Linked DNA regions of Homo sapiens: region 2 is linked to region 1. Evidence: fine-mapped expression QTL. A gene starts in region 1. The other region holds a variant in brackets. All regions are shown on one strand. Distances are between the middles of the regions. Region 1 holds the start of ZNF185 (zinc finger protein 185 with LIM domain). Region 2 overlaps ZNF185 (zinc finger protein 185 with LIM domain).

Evidence for each region. PIP is the estimated chance that this variant, and not a neighbour inherited with it, causes the effect.
Region 2: its variant is fine-mapped to the expression of ZNF185 in whole blood (TOPMed, PIP above 0.99).

What each region holds. Positions count from the first base shown.
Region 1 is chrX:152,896,550-152,899,449 of GRCh38, forward strand. ZNF185 (zinc finger protein 185 with LIM domain) reads left to right here and starts at 1,518. Exons shown (of 25, transcript NM_001395254.1): 1 at 1,518-1,689. RefSeq lists an enhancer at 770-1,270.
Region 2 is chrX:152,922,043-152,924,942 of GRCh38, forward strand. It overlaps ZNF185 (zinc finger protein 185 with LIM domain), which reads left to right. Exons shown (of 25, transcript NM_001395254.1): 11 at 131-214; 12 at 678-767. Among named protein-coding and RNA genes, the nearest start is that of ZNF185, 25 kb to the left of the region's middle. The variant C/A (reference allele first, on the strand shown) is at 1,577.

The DNA of each region.
Region 1 (2,900 bases):
GTCTCCGTGACCCAGTGATGAATCAGAAGGGGCCCTGCCCTCCCAGAGCTCAGGATCTAGAACAATAGAGGGTGACAGCCACTATGCTGGATTGATGTCATCTGAGGGAACTAAGGGGTGCACAGAAGGAAGTGATCAGCTCGACTGGGTGGCAGGCAGGGGAGGCTTTCCGGACACTGGGTGGAGGCTTGAAGAATGACTAAGAGCTCACTAGCCCGACGGGGATGAAGAGCATTTTAGGGAGTCCGAGGAGCAGGAGCAAACACCCCAAGGTGAGCGCCATGTGATGTATTCAGAAGGCAATGGAAAAAGGCCAGTGTGGCTGTAATGTATTGAACAAAGGGAAGAGTGGCTGGACCTGCAGGGATAGGTCGTCTCAAGGAGTCTGGCTTTTACCCTGAGAGCAATGGGAAGCCATGGAGGAGTTGCAAGCAGGAGAGCACCTGATCATATTGACACACGTGAACTTTTAACCTGACCTCCGTGTAGAGACTGAGGGAAAGGAAGGCAAGACCAGAGGCAGGGGGACACCAGCAAGGAGGCTGGTCTTCGGGGCCAGGTCTGGACTAGGGTGGTGGCAGCAGGCACAGGGAGAAGTGGGTGGACTGGAGGGCCATGGAAACACCACATTGGCAGGCCTTGATGAAGGAGAAGCAGCTGGTCCATTCTTTTGAGCCTACCACCCTGGTAGGCCAACTCCTGGCCAAGTCCATGCCATTTCTTGGGCTGGCTTAATTGTCTCCCTGTTTGGGAGGCCGTGGGGTGAGGGGTCTTTCCTCCATGCTCTCTCCATCCTTAGCCCCAGCCCAGGGCCTTGCACACAATAAAGCACTCGGTGAGCACCAACGCGTGACACAGGTACATCAAACCGCATTGGCTCTGGGAGTCTGGCTGTATCTCGTCGCCCAGCCTGGGAGATAGCCCCGTTTGCTGTGCCTTGTGAGCCCCGGGTCCGTCCCAGGATGGCCTTCCACGATGAGCGGCTCCCTCACTCTTCTCCTCCTTTCCTGCCTGCAGGACTTCCTGGATGATCTCAGCCGCCAGCCCCCCGCCCCCCTCCCCGCCCCTGTCTGGGATCTCCATCTGTAAAATGGATCTAGGAACGGTAGTTCTCGACTGAATTAACCCGACAGCATCTGTGGAAGTCGTTGGCCCTGTGCCGGGGCCAGATCGCGCAACTAGGAGCGGGGGCCCTTCACGTGGCGGAGGCTTCCCGGCCTGGGGGCCACGGGCCCGGAGGAATTTGCCTGGAAGTTTTCCATCACGGCAGAGCCTTCTGGAGCTCGCCCCGTGCTCGACAAGGGGAGCCCCAGACTTGATTTCTCCAGCAGCCCCGCGGGGCGGGGCCGAGAAGGGGCGGGCGGGCGGAGGACGCTGGCGGGAGAATGTGCGGAATGTGCCAGGCGCCTCTACCTACCCCAGGAGGGGCAGAGGAAGGGGCCGGCCGAGGGGAGGGGCGAGGGGCGAGGCTCCGGGCGGCCGGAGAAAACCTGTTTGTTCTCCTGCGGGCGGAGCCCAGTCCGCGCCTCCTCGCCTCCCTGCGCGCTCCCCGCTGTGCACCGCGCCCCGCGCCCCGCGCCTGCCTCCCCGGCCCGGCCCGGCCCGGCCGGGCGCCGTCCACCCGAGGGAGCCCGCGCCCTGCGACTGCCCGACCCTCCACCCGCCCCACGAGCCGGGCACCGGTGCCAGGTAGGGCTGTCGAGTCGCCATTGGATGCGGCCCTGCTTGGAGGCAGTGGGGGGCACCCAGTCCGTGCCCAGCTGGGGACAAGTCAGGGCCTCAGTTTCCCCATCCATAACCCTTACCAGCTCCAAGCATCTCTCTTCGGGTTCCCCCCGGGAGTCAGTGGATTTCTGGTTTTCGCTGTGAGTGAAAAGACTGACAGGCAGAGGAGGCCAGCGTCCCCTACAGAGGCAAGTGTCCCCCTTGCCAGCCTGATCCCTCTGTCTTGCCCTTTAGGAAAGACACGGTTTAATTGTTAGTAAACGGCGAGGGGCCAGGATGCTCTGAGAGTTGACTGCAGGCCTTTAAGAATCAGGGAATCTCATATCCCTCCGTCCCCCTGTGCCCATTTTATAGATGAGGAAACTGAGACCCAGAGGCTGGCTCACCCAGAGGATCCCCTCAATCGCCCTGGGGCCTGTGAGGTGCATGTGCTGGGTACAGGGCAATCTTGGGGAGGGCCATGAGGATGGTGGCTGCTCACACTCAGACAGAAGGCGCCGAATCAGGTGTCACTGGGTGTTATCGACAGGATCGGCACTGCACCAGCTCTGTGGCTGGATTGTTTTGATGGGGGCAGAGGGAGCCAAGAGTCTGTCCTCTTTGGAAAGGCAGAGGGATACCTTGCCTTACAAAAAGGCCGAAAGCTCAGGTGCTCCTGCCTGATCTGCCACTTCTGAGCTGGGGACACCTGGGTACTCTGTCGGTTTAAGGGGGTGACACGTCAAGCTGCCTCCCACCCAGGGCTGCTGGGGACTCAGATAAAGTAGGTGGTGGGTGTGTCCCGGCTTTGGGACATCTGAGGCATGGTAGGAGTTGTGTTCTTGCTGAGCCGTCGGCACGAAGCCTTGGCATCATGGGAGGCCCCAAAGCTGTGAGCCCCGAGAGAGGGCCTCTCACACCCCATCCAGCAGTGCTTGAGGCTTCAGTACCTGGACTAAGTCCTGCCTTGGTCTCATGGCCCTTCAGACTTCTGGCTGTCGTACCTGGCTGGGGGCGGGAGGCAGGGGTGCACAGGTTGATAGGCCTGAACAGAGCTGCAGAGGTCCTGCCTTCCCAGGGCCTCCGCTCCTCATCTGAAAAACAAGGGGCAGCTCAGAGGCCAGCAAGTGGCCAAGACACAGATGCACAGATGAGGGGCCAGCCTTCTGGCAGGCCTTGGTGCCTCCGCTGTTCCC
Region 2 (2,900 bases), 25 kb after region 1:
TGGGCCACCTCTTGGCCGTGATCCTGAAGGGTTGGGTCAGTTAGACGCCACTGGAAGCATGTTCTTTGAGGCCTCCAAGCTCTAGGGCAGCCAAGAAGACCACGAGCGCTGTTTCTCTTCTTGCTCAAAGGGTGGAGGTGGTGGAAGAGGACGGGCCTTCTGAGAAGAGCCAGGACCCACCTGCTCTGGCAAGATCCACTCCTGGCTCAAACAGGTAATCCATTGCGCTCATCTCTGCCTGGGGCTGGTGGCTGCCATACCTGCCACTCAGTCACTGAGGAACCTCAGTCAGGGCACCTCCATGCTGGGCTTCGAGATCAGTGTCCCCATGTGCCCAGTGACAAGACGGGACAAAGAAATCAGTAAGAGCCCATCTGGCTGGATGTCCCAGGGCTGAAAGGAGCAAAACAGTCCAGCCCCCCGGGAGAGAGCACCTGGCTCTGGTCTGATGAGTACGTATCTGTGTCACCTTAACCCTTGCACCACTGAGCCTGGTGGCAACTTGAACACCCCAAGAAAAAGTACCATCCTTGGGGTTTGAGAGGGCCAGCCACCATGGCAGTAGCATGCCATTGTCAGACTTGCTCCTTGCACTCCAATAAGTTAGCCACATTCAGCATGCCCAGGGAGGAGGCTCTGACATCTCCAGAGCCTCTCACAGCCACCTTCTTTGCCAGTGCGGATGGAGGCAGGACCAAAGCGTCTCGGGCAATTTGGATCGAGTGCCTGCCAAGTATGCCTAGCCCCGCTGGGAGCCAGGAGCTCAGGTGGGTGCCGAGAGCTGACTCTGGCTTGTGAGTGGGTGTGATGGCTTCCCGCCAGCCTGGCTGGCTGGTTCTGCCAGCTGGGGAGGGTCTGGCAGTGGGGTGATGGGGCAAGGACAGGCTGAGCACTGGTGATCTCACTCCAGGAAGGGCCGTGATTTGTCTTGATTTCTGATCCCTGAGAATCTGGGCAGATAATGGTGCTCTCTTGTCTGTGGACAACTAATACCTTCTTGTACTTTGTGCAGAATGGTGCTAAGTCCTGCAGGGAGAGCCACCACCTGCTGTTGCTGCTGTTTAAAGTGCCTGCCTGGATTGAGACCTTTGCTCAAATCTAGGTCTCCTAAGAGCTGCATCTCTGTAGCACCCTTGGAAGACCCCTGCATCCAGAAGGGGAGAGGGCCTGTCCCTACCGGTCACTTCCCAGGCCCCCAAGGGCTGTTCAGGCTCTCCTAATACCATAGCAATCCCCCAATTTGAGCTCCACAGCCATTTATAGACAGGTGACCACTGTCCTCAGGGTTACTTCCTCAGTCTGGGAGGGAGACAGAAATGCTGGCAGAGGGAGCCAGGAGCATGAGGCCAGCTCCCTCCATGGCCCCAGGCAGCAGACTGCCAGGGTGCTTCTCCTTTTCACTCTCTCCCTCTCTTGATCTTCTCTGGTTGTCTGACTCTCCCCATAAGAACTTTGGTCCATAGAAGATGTGGAAAGGAAGATTTGAGAATTCTTTACAAGGCAATATCTAGGGCAGAGCTCCCCAGTCTTTTTGGCACCAGGGATTGGTTTCGTGAAAGACACTTTTTCCACGGGA[C/A]GGAGCAGGGGATGGTTTCAGGATGAAACTGTTCCACCTTAGATCATCAAGCACCGGATTCTCATAAGGAGCGCACAATCTAGATCTCTCACATGTGCAGTTCACAATACGGTTCGCGCTCTCATGAGAATCTGCTGATCTGACAGGAGGCGGAGCTAAGGCAGTAATGATCTCTAGCTTACCTCCTACTGTGCAGCCTGATTCCCAGCAGACCACAGACTGGTACTGATCCTCAGGCTGGGGTTGGGGACCCCTGATCTAGGGGACTTGGCAATTGAGGGATATGGGGGCAAAGGCTGCCACAACAAAGTATTGTACCACACCCTGGGGCGCTTAAACCACAGAAACGTATCATCTCCCACTTCTGGAGGCTAGAAGTGTGAGATCAAGGTGACGGCAAGGTTGGTTCCTCTTGAGTCTCTCTCCTTGGCTGGTAGACTCCATCTTCTCCCTGGGCCCTTATATGCTCATCCCTGTCTGTGTGTGCCTGCGTCCTAATCACTTCTGTTTTTTTGAGACAGAGTCTCACTCCGTCGCCCAGGCTGGAGTGCAGTGGCACAGTCACCACTCACTGCAGCCTCGACCTTCCAGGCTCAAGAGAGCCTCCAGCCTTAGCCTCCTGAGTAGCTGGGGCTACAGTCACAGGCCACCATACCCAGCTAGTTTTTTTTTTTTAAATTTTTGTAGAGACAGGGTTTCACCATGTTGCCCAGGCTGGTCTGGAACTCTAGGACTCAAATGATCCTCCTGCCTTAGCCTCCCAAAGTGCTGGGATTGCAGGCATGAGCCACCGCGCCCAGACCCTAATCACTTCTTATAAGGACATTGGTCCAACTGGATTAGGGCCCACCCTAACAACTGTATTTTAACTTAGTCACTTCTTTAAAGGCCCCATCTCCAAATGCAGTAACATTCTGAGGTCATGGGGGAGTTAAGACCTCAACATATGAATTTTGGGTGGCACAAGTCAGCCCATAACAGTATACAGTTCTCATTTCTCCTTATTTCTCTTTTAAAGAAAGGCAATAAATGGTTTCAGGTGCCTTTCTGTTTGTTCGTTTGTTTGTTTTGTTTGTTTTTGAGATGGAGTCTCGCTCTGTCGCCCAGGCTCTGTCGAGTACAGTGGTGTGATCTCGGCTCACCGCAGCCTCCGCCTCCCGGGTTCAAGCGATTCTTCTGCCTCAGCCTCCCGAGTAGCTGGGATTACAGGTGCACGCGACCACGCCCGGCTAATTTTTGTATTTTTAGTAGAGACGGGTTTCACCATATTGGCCAGGCTGGTCTCAAACTGCTGACCTTGTGATCTGCCCACCTCAGGCTCCCA